Homo sapiens: one gene and its partners. The protein of the gene in region 1 purifies or fractionates together with the protein of each later gene. This does not show direct contact. Each region holds a gene or a part of one and is shown in the gene's direction. Other genes may lie near its edges.

Region 1 (5,180 bases):
CAGTAGACTAGGGTCAGATTGTGTTGGGCCTTGTAGGCCAGAGTAAGGCCTTAGCTTTTATTCTGAATGTGCAGGGAAAACATACTACATGTGGGATTATACCATATACATTCATATTATGGAAGGCTCCATGGGTTGAATGCAGGGTGGATCTTCAAAAGTGGGTCCCCTTTCCACAGGTGCATATAGTGGGAAGGCGGATTTTATTTATTAACTCACCACAGAGCAGGCTCTGTGCCGAGGCCTGCTGGGACACAGAGAGTCCCAGTCTAGGGTGGTAAGTGCTGTCATGGAACCATATGGGTGGACTCTTTGGAAAATCCCAATTCCTATTCTCTCACTTAACACAACAATCAACAACACAGAAGAAGACTTCCGTGACTAAATGTGTGTTGGGGTGGGGAGGGATTCTTCACCACCACTAAGCAAGCATTCAGTTCTGCAGCACACGCCAACTGGATGTCCTCCAATTCAGTTCAGACACGACCTGGAGACAGTGTTGGATCCAACAGGTTGAGGGCTCAGGCCTCAAAACTGCCCCTTGGCCCTCGCCTTCAGTTGCCATTCTGGGTCGTCAGAACTTCTGATCTACCTGCTTCAAGTTGGAGTTCCCATGACCACCCTGCCTTTGGGTTTGATTAATATGCTAGAGCAGCTCTCAGAACTCAGGGAAACATGTAAGTTTATCAGTTCATTATAAAGGATAGTATAAAGAATACAGATGAAGAGAGGCATAGGGTGAGCTATGGGGGAAGGGGTGTGGAGCTTCCATGCCCTTCTTGGGTGCACCACCCTCCAGGAACCTCTGTGTGTTCGGCTATGTTGAAGTTCCCAGGCCCTGTCCTTTTGGGTTTTTATAAAGGCATTGTTAGGTAGGCAGGATTGATTAAACCTGGTGATCACCTTGACCTTCAGCCCCTCTCCGATCCCTGGAGGTTGTGGGGTGGGACTGAAAATCCCAACCCTCTAATCATGCCTCTCTGTTTTCCATGACTATCTTTCCAGTGACCATGGACCCCATCCTGAAGGTATCAGTCAACATTAGCATACAAAAAGCGCCTTGGAGATTCCAAAGATTTGAGGAGTTGTATGCAAGGAAATGGGGATGAAGCCCAAATCTGTATCTCACAGTATCACAACTGTAGCAGGTGCTTGGTGGGGACACACTTGGGAGATAGTCAGTGCACAGGGAATTCTCAGGATATGACATGATCAATGGCCAGTCAAGGTTTCTGAAATGATATTAATAGATTTTCTATCAGGAATGTGACGGAGACCCCAACCTAGAGTTGTTTAAACAAGTAAGAGTTCTCTTTATTTCTCATATAGCAAGTTCAGCAGCTCAAAGCTATCACAGAATTGGGTCAGCTCAAAGATATCACAGAAATGCGGTTTTTTTGACTGGCCTGTTTTGGTTATAAGATTCCAGCAGCATCTGCTGTCCTAGTGGAACTGCACTTTTTAGTGCAGTTTAGCAGAGGCCAGCTTAGGACACAGAGGTTCTTTCCCTCCTCCCTTTTATGAAGGAGGAAAATCTCTCCTGAATCTCCTCAGCAGACTTGCTTGTATATCTCTTTGCCAAGAACTAGGTCATATGCAGAGTTAGTTGAAGTTAAGTTTGGCTGTAAGTAGTAGAAAAACTCTAAATAACAGGGGCTTAAATGAGCTTGAAGTTTCTATCTGACTGATGACCAAAATGTCTGGTGGCAATCCAGGCTGCTGTGGCACTTCATGGTGTCAGGGTCCCAGGCTCTTACCATTATGCGCTGGTTGTATCCTCCATTCTACCCTCCGTGTCCCCCAGGTTACCTCAGGTCCCCAAGTTGGCTGCCGAAGCCCCAACCATTATAGCTCCATTCCAGACAGGAAGGAGGGAAGATAAGTGTGACCCCCATCCCTATAAGTTGCACAAAACATTTCCACTTGGATTTTATTGGCCAGATGTTAGTTTTATAGTCACATTCAGATGCAAAGGCAATTCAGAAATGTCTTTTCCAGGGGTCATGTGTACAGCTGAAAACCAAGGATTATGAACAGCAGTATAGCCCCATGCAGGAGCTCCTAACTTGGGGATCATCTGCAATTCCCAGGCAGGTCCATGAATTTGGATGGCAAAAATAACATCTTTATTTTCATTAACCTTTAACTTACATTTAACTTCCCTTCTGTTATAGATTATAATATCACTATAGTATATCATAGGTAGCGTTAGCAAAACCTGTGACTTACCAGTGGAAATCAGGAGTTGTGTTCACATGTCATTTCTGCTATTATACATATCTTCTAGTGTTGTTTATGTTCACCTCTTTCAAAATTGCGTTCATTATTAGACCTGCTAAGGGGATTCATGGCACCACCCCACCCCTCTACAAGAGAAAAACCAAAAAAAGCCGGGTGCAGTGGCTCATGCCTATAATCCTAGCATTTTGGGAGGTCGAGGTGGGAGGATTGCTTGAGCTCAGGAGTTTGAGGGCAGCTTGGGCAACATAGTGAGGCCTCATCCCTACAAAAAGTTAAAAAACTAGCTGGGCTTGGTGACACCTGCCTGTAGACCCGTCTACTTGGGTAGCTGAGGCGGGAGAATCACTTGAGCCCGGGAGGTCAAGGCTACAGTGAGCTACGATTGTGCCACTGCACTCCAGCCTGGGTAACAGAGTGAGACCCTGCCTCAAAACAACAACAAGCACAACAAAAAAGAAAAAACAGAGCAAATATGAATCCATAGTACTGGTTAAGAACCTGGTGGCTGGGATTCAAATCCTGGCTTTACTACCAGTAAGCTGTATGCAGTTAAGCTCCCTGTGCCTTTGTGTTCTCTGCCTCAAGACGGGGGATTCTGTATTTCCCTCATGGGATTGTGAGGGTCAAATGAATTAAAACATTAAAGCCTGGGGCATAGTAGAGACTAAGGAAATATTTACTGTTATTATTCTGTCATGGTGAAAAAAGGGAAAAGAAACATCAGTGGACCAGCTGCCACGATGTCCTTCTTAATAATCTGAACAAAATCAGGATGCTGTCAGTGAGGCGTGGTTGCCACGGCTGCCATTATTAATCTTCCCCTGGTGCTAGGGTGTCCCTGTAGAATGTCATTTTGTACTCAAGACAACCCTCTGAGGGTAGGTATTCTCATCATCCCCACTTCACAGATGAGAAAATTGAGGCTCAGAAAGGTACAAGGATTGCCCAAGATTCCACAGCTAATATGTAAGCAGTTTAGCCTTGAACCTGGACAGTGCAGCTCTGTAGTACCACCCTAGGCCATCTTTCTCAAGCATTGATGATGCTGTCTGCCTGAAGAAACACTTTTAATGAAACCAAAAGCAGAATCCCAAAGAACAGCAGTGGAAGGAAGGGAGCTCTCTGGATGGGAAAGCAGCCTGATTGTCATGGGCCCACCTCTTGGGCATCCCCAGCTTCAAGTTGGGGTTCCCACGACCCCCTCTTTGGGTTTGATTAATTTGCTGGAGCGGCTCACAGAACTCCAGGAAACACTTAGGTTTACCGGTTTATTATAAAGGATATTCCAAAGGATACAGATGAAGAGGTGCATAGGGTGAGCTATGGAGGAAGGGGCGGGGAGCTTTCGTGCCATCCCTGGGGATGCCACCCTCCAAGAATGTGCATGTTCTGCTATCAGGAAGCTCTCTGAATCCTTTCCTCTTTGGTTTTTATGGAAGCTTCATGATACAAACATTTTTGCCTAAATGACAGTATGATATTGAAATTGAGTCAGGCTGCCTGGCTTCATTGCTTTCCAGTAAGTGACAGCCTCACCTCTGTGCATCAGTGTCCTCACTCGCCTCTGTGCATCAGTGAAGTGGGGACGCTGCTAACAATACATACCTCAGAGCAGTTATGAGGATTCAGTGTGTTAATCATCCATGTCAATCACTTGGATTGCTGCCAAGCACGTAGCAAACAATAAATGTTTGTTGCTATTGTTCTGGCATTTATGATTATGATTATTAATTGTAATTATTCCCTGTACCATCTCATTGTCCTCAGGGCTGTTGCTCACCTAGTATGGCCCTAGCCCATGTGTATATTTCCCCATAGCTCAGGCTGAGAGAAGAACACACAGATCAACTTGGAGAAAACAAAGAGGAAAGAAATAGGCAACTAGGTCAATACTCCCCACAGTATTTTATGTTATTTTATTTTATTTATTTATTTATTTGAGACAGAGTCTCACTCTGTCACCCAGGCTGGAGTGCAGTGGCACCATCTCGGCTCACTGCAAGCTCCACCTCCCAGGTTCACGCCATTCTCCTGCCTCAGCCTCCCGAGTAGCTGGGACTATAGGCGCCCGCCACCACGCCCGGCTAATTTCTTTTTGTATTTATGGTAGAGACGGGGTTTCACCGTGTTAGCCAGGATGGTCTCGATCTCCTAACCTCATGATCCGCCTGCCTCGGCCTCCCAAGGTGCTGGGATTACAGGCATGAGCCACTGCGCCTGGCCTCCCCACAGTATTTTATTATGAAAGTTTTCAGACATGCATAACTTTGGAAGACTAACACAAGGGTCAGCAGACTACAGTCCATGGGTCCAATTCAGCCCACTGTCTGCTTTTGCAAGTAAAGTTATTGGAACACAGCTATGCCTGTTTGCTTCTCTAGTTCTGGTTCTATGGTTGTTTTCAGTGCCACGCAAGCAGAGTTCAGTAGTTAGGTTTGCAAAGCTGAAAATAATTACTGTCTGGCAATGTATAGAATAAGTTTTGCTGACTTCTAGCATAGTGCAGTGAGCACCTCTATACTTACACCCCAGGTCAGTGATTGTTAGTGTTTGCTATATTAGTTTTTTATCTTTCTATAGGTCTGTCTCTATATACGTTTTATTTTTTAGCTGAAAATCAGTTGCAGGTTTTGTAGTACTTTATCCTGAGGTCCGTTTAATGCCAGAATGGTGAGTTTTTGGACTACCTGTATGAAAGATTTACTGTGTGCATTTTTCTGAGGAGAGACCATCACAACACTTCATCAGATGCTCATCGTCTGTGATCGCAGAGATATTCTTCAACTCCTGGACCGGAGAACCCAACTCACGCAAGATCTTAGTCACTTGTAGACCTCGTCTCAGTTATGTAGGGCCTCAGAACAGAACAGGCTAAGGGAGCTCCTGCTCCTCAACCTCGCCCTGTCCCTACCTGTTCTGCCTCTATCCAGGAAGAAAGG
Region 2 (4,355 bases), on another chromosome or scaffold:
CAAAGGAATAACCACTGATACTAGTTTTGTATATCATTGTAGACATTTTTTGTGGGCATTCAAGGAAATGCATATCTTTCCTCTTACTGTTTTACACAAATGGTAGCATACTGTACACTCTGTTTTCTTAAAAATGTCTTGGGAATCTTTCCACTTCAGTATATAGTTTCCTTATTTTTTTGAATGACTGTACAGTATTTCACTGTATGGATATACCATAGATTATTTAACCATTCCCCCACTGACAGACATTTAGATTGTTTCCAGTAATTTACCGTAAACAGTGCTACGAATATGCTGTTTCATATGTGAATAAATATATTTATAGGGTAAATTCCTAGAAATGGAATTGTTGGGTGAAATAAACACACAAACACATATATTTACATAAGTATATATTTATGTAATGCGTGTATATGTGTATATATTTGTAATTATTTGTGATTATAAAATATTCTGGTCATATTAGAATGCTTTGGAAGGAAACAAGATTGAGTGTGGGAGACAGCTGCCCCTAATTAAGGTTACTGTGGATAACATAGGAGAGAAAAGGTGGTGGCTGAGAGAAAAGAATGGTCGTATTGGAGATGGAGAGAAGTACATATATTCATGAGATATATTTAGGAGGCGTAATTGATAGGATTTGGTGGTTGATATGGTACAAGGGTTGAGAGGGAGAAATGAGATCCTAAGATGACTCCCAGGGTTCTAGCTTGCCCAACCAGTGAATGGTGGTGGTGTTACCTGAAGTAAAGAACATTTAAGGATAAATAGTTTTGAGATGAGTTTAAATCACAGTTTACATTGGGACTGCTGAGATTTTCAAGTGAGAGGTCACATAAGCATTTGACAATTCTAATTCAGAGCCAAGAGCAGAGGGCTAAACTGGAGGCACGAATTTTTAGGTGTAAATTAAAGGCTGTGGATGAAATTATCTAGGGCAGTGGTTGCAAAGCAGTAGCCTACAGCTGAATCTGACTCACAGATGTTTTGCCCATACAGTGGTTTTGTTATTGTTTAATTTTGAATTAGTTGCCAATATTTTAAAATCTGAAGATTTCTCATGAAAAATCCAGATTTGGGGTTTCTCTTTAAAAATGAGAAAATGTAGCACTACTGAGTTGGTTTTCCAATATGGCAGCAATAATTGGAGCTAAGTCACAGATGATCGCAGCTCTTCTATTTCACTACAGAGCCCACCACTCCCTAAAATTATGCCTGGCCCACTTTGCTCATTTATTTCTCTGACTGTAGGCTTTTGAGCATGTGATCCCTGGTCTGGGAAGAGAGCATAGAACAGTGTTCTCATCTTGGTTGCACATTGGAATCACTGAATGATTAAAAAATGCTAATGCTGTGGTCCACCTAAGAAATTTCTTTTTCTGTTTACTTGATCTGATTTGCTGCCTTGGACGAATCTGAGGTGATTCCACTTAGCTGTGGAAGTTGAGAACCACTGACAGAGATTAAGAAAAAAGGGCTCAGGCCCAGCATTTTGAAGTTTAGTAGAGGAGGATAGCCCAGGAAGAGAATGAGAAGTGGCCACAGAGGTACAGTGGAATGACGCCTTGCTCAGAATTAAAGTGTGCAAACTTAACTGAATGCGCTCTACCATGTTTTTTATTAAATGAGAGAGAGAAAAGTTTTATTTACTTGTATACAGGTGTGCGATATTTAACGGGCCATTTAAAGGATTTTCAAGAGTAATTTAAACAATATTTGGTTTTTGTCTTAGCTGTTTCCTTCACAATCTAATTCTAGTTTAAGATGCATCATAAAAGGTGAGAGAAGAATGTTTCAAATAGAGAGGTGTCATCAAGTAAAGATGTGGAACAAAAATGATCTGTTGAATTTAGCAAGATGGAGTCTTTGACCTCAGCAAGAACCATTTTAGATTGGAAGAGGCAGAAACCAAAATGAAGTGGGTAAAAAGTAAGGAAATGGGAGTGGCAAGTGTTGGAAATTCCTTTGAGAAGCTTGCCCAAAAAGAGGAAGTGGTGAGGGAGGATGAGGTGTCTTACATGCCTACAATGTAGGTGTTAGTCTGTTGGTTACTCAAACATTTCTCCTAACTTTTTAGGGATGTAGGTCAATGGTGTCTGATTACCCCTCTCCCACGTTCTTAGGGGTCTTGTTTTGGAGACTACTTTTTACTGAGAAGAAATTTTGCCAGGACTGTTGAAGGGGCTGACTCAGATGTTGGTGATTAGGCCACAAGTTTCTTTCTCAACTGGAAAGCTGTAGAGCTCCTAAAGGCCAGTGGTGATCTGGGCTCCAGTGACCCTGACATCATCCTCCCATTGAGCTGATGAACAAAGACTATATTGTTGGTATGCTGAAAATGGAATACTTGGCTATGTTAGGGAATGTGTATCTAACTGTGAGATTCCCAGGAATAGTTTTTGCAGCTGTATTTTTTCCAATTAACTTGATATTATAGCTTAATTTTCCAGTTGCATGCATGTAAAAACTCTCATACTTTGAAGTATTTATCATTGATGGTACCTGAGGGATATGGATGTAAGTTGGAGATGTAGGCCCTCATTGAGCTCAGAAAGAAGAAAGCACTGAGCAAACTGGTTTCCAAAAAGTTGTGTGAAGGCTTCTACCTCGAAGACTTGGTGTTAGAGTGACTATTTAGGATGGGTTGTAATGCAAATGGTCACAACCAGTTTGTCTTTTATCCATTTCTGCCACATTGGCAACCTTAACCTAGCAGAGAGGCTTTTAAGGTCAATTTTGTGCTTCATATTTCTAAGAGTTGTAGCCTGCCAACAGAACAGAAAATATAAGGGGTGGAAAATGCCAAGAATTATTGGTTAAGAATGGTTTTGATTAATTGAAGGCATAAACCTCATTGCTATACTCTTGAAAACAGGAATATCATCTTGTGAGGGACCAGACTTCATAGCTGTCATTGGTTTATCAGTTAGGTGGATGATGGTTAACTTCTGTATAAAGGATGACTTTGTGACATGAAAGCAGACCTTGGTCCAAGATGGTTTGTAATGTGAGTCCATTATAAGAAAATATCTTATTTAGAAACTTGTGTATGCTTGGACAGCTGTGGGAATTCCATCATCACAAATATGGTTAGGTACTATGCCTGGCTGGCAGTATATAGAGGCAAAAGTCCATTACCAAGGTGGTCCAGAGCTCCTTTGGTTTGTGGAGGAAACAGGATAGCTGAGTGGGGAGAGGACTTGGAGTCAGTTCCTGAGTATAGTTCCTGGATTTGTCAAGGGTGAACTGTGTGATTTTTTTTAATTGAGGTAAAATTAACCATTTTAAAGTGTACAAATCAGTTACTTCAGTATGTACATTCACAATGTTGTGCAGCCATCACCGCTAATTCTGGAACATTTTCATCACCCCAAAAGGAAACCCTGTACCCATTAAGCAGTCACTCGCCATTCCCCTTTACCCCTACCGTCTGGCACCCGCCAATTTGCTTTCTGTCTATATGGATTTGCCTGTTCTGAAGATTTCATATAAATGGAATCATACAATATGTAACCTTTTGTGCCTGGCTTCTTTCATTCAGCACAATGTATACGAGGTTCACTCAGGTTGTAGCATGTATCAGTACTTCATTCTTTCTTTGGCTGAATAATACTCCATTGTATGGATATACTACGTTTTGTTTATCAGTTGACATTTAGATTGTTTACACCTTTTGGCTCTTATAAATAGTATTGCTAAGAGCATTCTTCTACAAGTTTTTGTTTAAATACCTGTTTTCAATTCTTTTGTGCATGTATCTAGGAATAGAATTGCTGGATTATGAAATAATTCTATGTTTAAAAAGTTTTTGAGGAACTCCCAGACTGTTTTCCACAGATGCTGCACACTTTTACATTTTTTCCAGCAATTTTTGAGAATTCTAGTTTCTCCACCTCCTCGCCAGCACTTTTGTTTTCTGGTTATAGCCATCCTAGTGGGTGTGAAGTGGTGCCTCATTGTGATTTTTATTTGTATTTCCCTAATGACTACTGACGTTGAGCATCTTTTCATGTGTTGGCCATTTGTGTATCTTTGGAGAAATGTCTGTTCAAGTCTTTTATCAATTTTTTAATTGGATTGTCTTTTGGTTGTTGAGTTTAAGAGTTCTTTACATATGTAAATATGGATACAAATCAGGTTTATGATTTGCAAATATTTCCTGTCTTACTGTGTGCTGTTTTTTCACTTTCTTGTTAGTGTTCTTTGCACAGAAGTTTTTAATTCGTGTGAAGTTGAATTTGTTTTTTCTTTGATTGTGTATGCTTTTGGCATTATATCTGACAATCTATCACCAAATCCAAGGTCCTGCCAGTTTACTCCTGTGTTTTCTTCTGGCAATATATAGTTTTAGT
Region 3 (4,355 bases), on another chromosome or scaffold:
TTTTTGTGGTCTTTTGTGGTTCCATGTGAGTTTTAGAATTGTTTTTTCTATGTATGTAAAACTTCATTTTGGTATTTAGATAGGGATCTCACTGCATCTATAGATAACTTTGGGTAGGATATACATTCTAACAATATCAAGTCTTTCAACCTATGAACACAGATGTTTATCCGTTTGTTTGTGTCTTGTATAATTTCTTTCACCGATGTTTAATAGTTTTCAGTATATAATCTTTCTCCTCCTTAGATAACTTTTTTCCAAGTTTTTTATGCTACTGTAAGTAGAATTTTTTCCTTTCTTTCCTTTTCTGCTATTCGTCGGCAGTGCACAGATATACAACTGATTTTTGTGTTCATCTGTGAACACTTTGAAGGCAAGATTATGCCTTATTTGTGTTCTACATAGTAATAAATAATAATTAGCAGTTATTAATATTTTTCATTTATTCATTTTTATTGAGTTTCGTTGGCAGTAATTTTTGCTTTCTTTCTTTCTTTTTTTTCCTATTCTTTTTAGAGCTCCACTGGTTCAACAGCCTCTCCTCCAGTTTCGACCCCAGTCACAGGACACAAGAGAATGGTCATCCCGAACCAACCCCCTCTAACAGCAACCAAGAAGTCTACATTGAAACCACAGCCTGCACCCCAGGCTGGACCCATCCCTGTGGCTCCAATCGGAACACTCAAACCCCAGCCTCAGCCAGTCCCAGCCTCCTACACCACGGCCTCCACTTCTTCAAGGCCTACCTTTAATGTGCAGGTGAAGTCAGCCCAGCCCAGCCCTCATTATATGGCTGCCCCTTCATCAGGACAAATTTATGGCTCAGGGCCCCAGGGCTATAACACTCAGCCAGTTCCTGTCTCTGGGCAGTGTCCACCTCCTTCAACACGGGGAGGCATGGATTATGCCTACATTCCACCACCAGGACTTCAGCCGGAGCCTGGGTATGGGTATGCCCCCAACCAGGGACGCTATTATGAAGGCTACTATGCAGCAGGGCCAGGCTATGGGGGCAGAAATGACTCTGACCCTACCTATGGTCAACAAGGTCACCCAAATACCTGGAAACGGGAACCAGGGTACACTCCTCCTGGAGCAGGGAACCAGAACCCTCCTGGGATGTATCCAGTCACTGGTCCCAAGAAGACCTATATCACAGATCCTGTTTCAGCCCCCTGTGCGCCACCATTGCAGCCAAAGGTAAGAAACTCAGTAACATAAGGAGGAGAATACAGGGGTGCCTATCTTAGTCTGCCTTCCCCAGGAAGCGAAGCCTAAGGCAAAAGTGTGTGTGTTACTTTTATTTCACTGACAAATACAATCCCAGGGAAGGATGAGTGAAGCCAGAGAGGAGAGAGAGACTACTTAGTATGTTACTAATATGGCCACTGTTTAGTATCAAATGGAATTGCTTGCTCAATCTCAGAGAATCATCTTCCAAAGCCCACAGACACCATAGCATCTGAGGACAAAGTGTTCTGATGGAGAAAGAGAAAATAATTTATTTTTCACATCCTTCCCTATATTGGTTAAAGCTTCCCTCTGTTGTGCAGAAACTTCCTCTACACCTTGCATTTGCTTGGACATTAAACAGGTCTGTAGTATCTCAAGCCTCAGCAAGGGTAGTGATCTATGGGTGAGACATGTGGAGGGCAAAACTGAGTGAACTGCTGTCAGGCTGTGGCCCTGTGAAGGCGATTATAACTCCCGCAATGTTGGTACCACAGCGGTTGCTGGGCCAGAACAAGTGGCCAAGGACCCAGGAAATGGGTGAGGCCAAGCAGGTCTAAGATAATGCAAATGCCTTGGACAGTTTCTCCTTTGAGAAGGGGCTGCAGTATAATGCAGCTTGTTTGTGACCCCTTGTTTATTCATTTTACTAATCCTCCAGAAAGAATCTTATTCTTCAGCCTTTAGCACTATTAAGCAATGTTTAAAAACTCCTTATGAGTGACAGTTACTTCTTATTTGATTTAATTGTCCATATGTGGACCTTTTAAGTTAACACTCTCTGTTACTTCGTCTGAATAGGTAAGGTGTAATACTACACATGCCCACTCACCACAACTTGGATTTTTCATTAGTACTGGAACCAACACGATGTTGATTCCTCCCATTATGACTAGAGGAACCAATAAGAATAACTTGGAATCGGTGAAAATAGAGGAACTGAGCCAGTTTCCAGCCACTTGGGTTGGAAGAGTGCCCTTGCTTCTTTTCAGTTAGAACTGTGAGAAATCAGAAATTTGAGAGCCCTCAATTAGCTAGAAGTTCAATGGTAGTTTTGGGGGATGGATTGGGTAGAAGTTTGGACTGTATTTTTAAAAATTCTTTCCACATTTTTACAAGATTGTCCATTTCAAGACAGATCTATTCACATATTCAACATTGTATCAAAAATTTCCTTATAGGGTATTTACTAAACTGTTTTTCTTATATGAAAGCGTCTGCCATATTAATGGTGTCCTATGTGAATTTCACATTCTATAGGGGAATAGAGCTCTTCCTGACAGTGGGGACTGTGAAGAGCTGGAGAAATCCTATAGCCTTATGTGTGACCACTATATGAAATTGGCCAGCCATGATCCCTTTCCGATAGATAGATTCCAAATTAGAATTTTAAATGATTTTAAACATGACTCAGTTTCTTAAGTCTCTCTATGAAAAGAAATGTTATTACAGTTTTTTATTTCTTTTTAAAATGAATTTGTCCATAATAGCCAATCTGGACAGCCTTGCTCTTTGTTAATGTCGCAGTATATTTGCACCAGTGCCTCCTGGCCCAGTCAAGGGGAGTCTATTTTCAAAACAACCAGTTCAGAGAAACAGATTATTCAACTTAACCACAGTTTTTGTTTTCAACAATTGCAACAGATTTACCCAGGGAAGATTACAGTAAAATAAAATTTTAGGTCAGAACAACTGCTGTCAAGGTTTAAGTTCAACTAGACAGACAATTTAGCCCTGCCCAAAACAGGGTGACTGAAAGGATGGCTGAGTGATGTTCCTGAAGGAATGACATGGTGTCTGCCTTGTTGGAGGATTGTGTTATCCCACATAGGAACCAGACATGAGAGAAAGCAAAACTATGTGTCTTGATGAGACTCACCTGGTGAGAGGTACTGAGCTAGTCTTCAGATGTTGTTTTCTCACTAAGTCACTGGGCACTCTGGCCAGCCTCTCTTCAGCATTTGGAACCCATCCATTGGTGTAGGAAAAAGAATCAGCCCCCACTGCTAGAACTGGATCTAAAGTGCTGGGTCCAGCCACATCCCTAACATTTGGCCTGTCCTCACCAACTGACACAGGGAGATGGAATGAATTTTTATAAACCACTCATCAGAAAACATGGAACTTTATTTTACTTCTTATTTGAGCAAGGTGGTTATTCAAGATGATCTATTAGATGATTACAGATTTTGGATATCAGTAGATTTCATGTTATTTTTAAAATTTTTGATATATTTGTTTTTCAACAGTTTCATGTGTTTTCACATCATATTCGGCTGTGCATTGAAAAAATGAAAATCAAACCATGTACTTTTCACTCTGATTATTAAGAGTGGTTAGAGGTTGATATTTAGCCATCTGTCCTGTCTGTGCTTTGGGAAAGGGGGAAGAGGCTGATGAAGTTATGGATAAATTCTGGGCGCGTTGTGAGGGCATTGGCTGATGAAAGGGTGGGTTCCTTCACAGTTGGCCTTTGAGCAAAACACTACTGTATTCTACTGCACCTGTGCACAGAGGACCTTATTGTCCTTATATTGACTGTTTGGCTTAATTATGTGACTACGGGCATGAGAAATGAGCTCCGAATTCTTATCCCAGTTCTTTCCTTGACATTCCTCTTCCAGTTTGAGGAAAACCTCTAGACCTCTTTATGTCATGCTTCAAACCTCAGTAAAGTAGAACACCATCTTTACTAATTAATTAATGATTGCAAAAGGCTTGGAAATTTCCAAAGGCTGAATAATTGCCAAGTGAAGACTATTCAGCTTTCCACTCGCTTTCATTTATTTTTAATTTTTTTTAGTCACTGATGGAAAACTTACCCTCATGTCTGAAAACAATTATACTTTATTACATTGAGTGCTTCTGGGGAGTTTGGCATTTAACCCATTAAGGAAAAAGTTTAAAAGATGAAATAAATAAATCTCCCTTATATTTGAGATGAGCTGCTTTAGTTTTCCTATATCAGGATAGTATAAAAAGAGGAATATGATATAGTAAAAAAGAGGAGAGACAGGATGGGGAAAAGGAGAAAGGAAAGAAAAAATGAAAAGGAAAAAATGAAGAAAGGAAAGAGGCAGAATGAGAACCTGCAAGGCTTAGGGGATCATGATTATGTTTATGTT
Region 4 (4,355 bases), on another chromosome or scaffold:
GGAGCCTGCAAATGTTTTTCTTTCTTAAGGGGCATGAGTTTGACAACCTGCTTTTGTTTACATGAAATAAAAGTCTGCATAGGCAAAAGGCTTGCATCTTATTCCCATGATCTAACACAAAAGTGAGTGTAAACTTCAAACTAGAAAATGTTGATTCTCTCAATAAGAAAGGGCTGCTGACTGTTGAAAAGCTGTAATTCATGTGCTCTTGGCAATAGTATTTCCTGATATGATTGTCTCTTAGAATAGGTGAAGAAACTGGACAATTTCATGAGAGTCTTCCAGGGAATAAATCATCATGAAGTTTGATACCCTACTTGGATGAGGAGTTTGAGAAATGATAGACAGAAGGACTTAATTTGTTAAATCAATGTAGGCTAAATTTCTTTGTTGATGACTCAAAGAGAAAAATAAATGACATGTCCCATCGTTTCTTTGTAAAGATTTAATCGAACCTTTCTTTTGCCCACTTGTTTTAAGGTTTACTAATAAGTCCGTACTGATGTCTCTTTGGAGGGCATCTTAAAAGAGAACGGGGAGGTGTTGTAGCAGCCCAAACCAGCTGAGTCCTAATTCTCTCCACTGACCTGTACACCTTCCCTGTCTGTCAAAAGATCTTGCTTCATTATTCAGTGTGGTTGGGACAGAATTTGAGACCTCAGAGAGAAGACTGGGTGAAAGGTAGAGTCATTGCTGCCAAGAGCTGCTCTTTTAGCCAGAAGGACATTGTCACTTTAATGATGCTATTTCGCCTTACCCTGGTGTTTTTCCTCTTTTTCCTTGGAAGTGGACCCTTGTTATAGCATGTAGGTAATAATAGTCTCCCACGAGACAATGGTAGATTCACTCTTTCCCAGAAACATTACAAGCTGTATAATTTGGAAAAGAAAGCAAGAACTGGGCCCTTAGTTTATGTTTGAAAGACAATCAATCTTCAGAAAGCCTGACGTCACTTGTGTGACAGTTCTTGAAACCACAGAATGAGATAGTGGGGGCTTGAGTCTCCTAAAGGGATTGGCAGTTAAGGAGGCACTGAGGTTGCGCTACTGTCACCACTGGTCTATGGCTGCTAGGTCTTTTTACCTTCATATCAGACTCTCCTCTCCCTTGAACTTACTCTTGACCCTACCTCGAGACCTGCAAAGGGCCAAGTGAAGACACAGAGCCCCCATGAAAGCGGCCTCACTGCCTGAGCTATCGAGGGGCCCAGGAAGCCTCACAGAGCAGAGAAGCTCCCATCTCCCTGCAGGCCCAAGGGAGAAGGGCGTGAACTGGAGAGAAGGGCAGTGATGTGTTGCCTCTTGGAAAGTTCCTGCTCTGTGTCTGGGCTTTGCAGTGTAAAGAGTTGTTGGCTGCCTCTGGCCCCAGAGCCTGGCTCCTGTTTAATATTCTGCCTGCTCCGTTGATGTTGTGCTTGGCTCCTGTGGGACTGCAACTCACGGCTTGAAACTGGAGCCAATTTTCTGTCTTCATCTCGCAGTGTTTTGACTGGAGGCAGATCCAGTTCAGGCCGATCAGGGCTGGTGGAAACAACTACCAAGTGTCTCTCTGTCTGCTTTGCTTTGGGAGAAGAAAGTGGAGGGAGCCCCAGCATGTTGTAGAGGAACTGGCCTGCGGAAACGAGAGGAGGAGGGTGCAGGGGGCAGCGGAACAGACTGAACCTCAGAGCATCAGTTGGAATTACGGTGGATATTTCTGCTTCCCCTGCCCTTTTCTTTTGATTGATTAGTGGATTTCATCAAAGGAGACTCCCGGGGGATTGACTAGAAAATTGATTTTGCCTTATTAATAGAAAGGAAGCGCAAGGGTTTTGGCTTCTTAGCAGTACATTTTCTTTGGAAGGTCAGGAGGAAAATGTGTTTAGGAGGCAAAGCAGCTGTCTAGAAGAGGGCTGAAGGGAATCTGAGAACAATAAGAAATGGGGTTTTAAAGATCCGCCCATGAAATGCAGATTGCTGAACACAGAGGCTGAGCTAATAGCAGCTAGAGAGTTTGCTGAGGTTTTCTTTGAAAAAATAATAAAATGTTTCAGGGTAAAGGGGAGGGCCGAGAAGTAAAAGTTTCCCAAAGCAAAGAAATGAAGATGCCAAGGCCGTCCCTTGGCTTGCTCTTGATTAGGGCTGTTTTCTTCATTCTTGTTTTTTTTTTTTTTCTTTTCAGATCTGAGGCTGTCAGAGATGACTCTGGTTCTGTCCATGAATAGATTCTGCGAGCCCATTGTCTCGGAAGGAGCTGCTGAAATTGCTGGGTACCAAACACTATGGGAGGCTGACAGCTACGGAGGCCCAAGCCCCCCAGGGCCAGCACAAGCTCCTTTGCAGGGAGACCGGGGAGCTGGTCCCCCACTGGCAGGTATTGCCCTTGACCTGCGCCCATCCCCCCCACCCCTCGCTGCCCTTTGCAGCCAGCCTGGTGGACAGGAGGTGGTGTCTGGGGTGCCCCTCTGAGCCAGGAGAGCTAAAGCTCCAGGGACTTCCCGGGCTGCCTGTGCGCCTCTCATAAGTGAGTCCAGAGCTCCAGAGAGAGGACCAGAGGTGATATTTAAATTGCATTCAAACCTGTGTCTACCCATGCTGCTTTTTGAATATAAGTCATGTGTCTGTATTTTTAAGAGGGCCAAACCAGATATTGAAACTCTGAGTTTGGGTTTTGGTTTTCTACCCTGTGGAACTGTATGGTTCTCTCACAACTATGAAAGCTCTGGTGGGCTCAACAATGACACCTTTATCCCATGAGATATAAAGGAATCTGCACTTTGGGCCAGCAGCTATGAGCTTCTTTTCTTTGTTAACCCATTTATGCCCAGTGTTCCATTATTGGAACGCTAAGCTTGTGGAAGTTATTTATATCCTACTGCTCAAGGTCATCACCAAGGTCTGACTTTTCAAACACAAAAAAATTTGCAACCTATGGCATAAATGGGTAAAGCACACAATTGGTTTTAGGATTGTAGGAAAAAAATTTAAAGCCAAGAAAATAGAAGTATGTTCTTCCTGATTCTTTCTTCTTATAGTTTAAGTTCCTTTGGATTTTTTTGCAGTATTAGCTATTTTTAAAAGAAACTAAAATATAAAACAAGTACTCAATGAAGTCTGTTTTGCTAAAAAAGATTAAAAACTGTGGTCTTCATGGTTGGCATACTACATTTTGGAGAGTGAAAAGGACATTAGTTACCCAAAATTTTAACTCAAATTTTAAAAATTTGAATTTTGTATTTTGAAAAAAAGGAATGCTATAATCCCAATGTGCAGATAACCATTTGTTCACTAACCTAAAGCCAATAAGATTTCAAAGTTGTTTGGTTATCAGTGGTTACAGTTAAAGATGTATACATCTTTAACAGTGGTGCTATGTTGTCATGAATTTAATTAAACAATTTAAATAAATACTAATATATTTTAGAGAAATTACACTCCTCCCCTTTATGAATGTTGCAGTTTCCTTTTGCATAGAATTAAGATTCTGCATATTTATTAAATGCTAAAATATGTGATTTTCCTCTATAATTGCCTAGAAATCTTTTCCTAGCCTGGGTCACAGGATTCCATATGATAGCAACTATTAAGACAAATGTTTATTTTTAATCACCACATGTACAGACAAATATGTAGCCAAGTTATCCTCTAGAAGGAAAGGAAACGAAAGTATTTTGTTTGGAGAACCTCTGGCAAACCGCATGTCATTTGTCATATCTGATTTATTACCACAGGATCACATTACAGGGGAATTTCAAATCCTATAACAACATCCAAGATCACATACTTTAAGAGGAAGTATGTGGAAGAAGAGGATTTTCACCCACCACTCAGCAGCTGTAGCCATAAAGTATGTTTTTTTAATAGTCATTATTTTTATTAAGAGTTTAAGATACTTAGTAACAGTTGCTTGATCCACTTCCAGGAATTAAATTGTTTCACCCAAGCAATGAAAATGAGCCACTTCTCAGTGGAGCCTCATTAATCGTTGTCGCTTTTTTGGGTCCTGTGTTATTTTTCACAAGTACTTGAAGAAAAAGCTGGCAAGAGCTATTCTACCCAGAAATGTCAAAATTATGTAATCCAAGGAATTTTTTTTAACGTATGATTTAATATTTCTCAGACTGTGTTTTGGGTTATGGTTCTTCCACACTTTTGTGTGTGGGGAATGCGCTCGTTCTTTCCTGTCATGTTCTCCCCAGTCTGAGTTCTGGCTCCTGCAGCCAATGCTACTTCCCTGTGTGTCCACATGGGGGTGGTTACACAGGGCTTTTCCTGACCTCTTATGGGTAGACTCATCATCCTTGAATGTGTGTATACAAGTAGAAATATGCACTTCACTGGACATGGGTTACATATAAGTTTGTTGAAACATGGACT

The links. The genes of interacting proteins can lie anywhere in the genome.
Region 2: the proteins of PPP2R1A (region 1) and PPP2R3A purify together in Homo sapiens (affinity purification with mass spectrometry; 7 studies listed by BioGRID and IntAct, with this or other methods). This does not show direct contact.
Region 3: the proteins of PPP2R1A (region 1) and LPP purify together in Homo sapiens (affinity purification with mass spectrometry; 5 studies listed by BioGRID and IntAct, with this or other methods). This does not show direct contact.
Region 4: the proteins of PPP2R1A (region 1) and SERTAD4 purify together in Homo sapiens (affinity purification with mass spectrometry; 5 studies listed by BioGRID and IntAct, with this or other methods). This does not show direct contact.

The regions. Positions count from the first base shown.
Region 1 is NC_000019.10:52,195,005-52,200,184, forward strand, and holds part of PPP2R1A (serine/threonine-protein phosphatase 2A 65 kDa regulatory subunit A alpha isoform), read left to right. Parts: intron 1-5,180. UniProt on the Homo sapiens protein: The PR65 subunit of protein phosphatase 2A serves as a scaffolding molecule to coordinate the assembly of the catalytic subunit and a variable regulatory B subunit.
Region 2 is NC_000003.12:135,968,716-135,973,070, forward strand, and holds part of PPP2R3A (serine/threonine-protein phosphatase 2A regulatory subunit B'' subunit alpha), read left to right. Parts: intron 1-4,355. UniProt on the Homo sapiens protein: The B regulatory subunit might modulate substrate selectivity and catalytic activity, and might also direct the localization of the catalytic enzyme to a particular subcellular compartment.
Region 3 is NC_000003.12:188,608,645-188,612,999, forward strand, and holds part of LPP (lipoma-preferred partner), read left to right. Parts: intron 1-516; coding exon 517-1,200; coding exon of another isoform or gene 1,201-1,221; exon of another isoform or gene 1,222-4,298; intron 4,299-4,355. UniProt on the Homo sapiens protein: May play a structural role at sites of cell adhesion in maintaining cell shape and motility. In addition to these structural functions, it may also be implicated in signaling events and activation of gene transcription.
Region 4 is NC_000001.11:210,235,784-210,240,138, forward strand, and holds part of SERTAD4 (SERTA domain-containing protein 4), read left to right. Parts: intron 1-1,502; exon of another isoform or gene 1,503-1,685; intron 1,686-2,160; 5' UTR 2,161-2,177; coding exon 2,178-2,352; intron 2,353-3,709; coding exon 3,710-3,825; intron 3,826-4,355.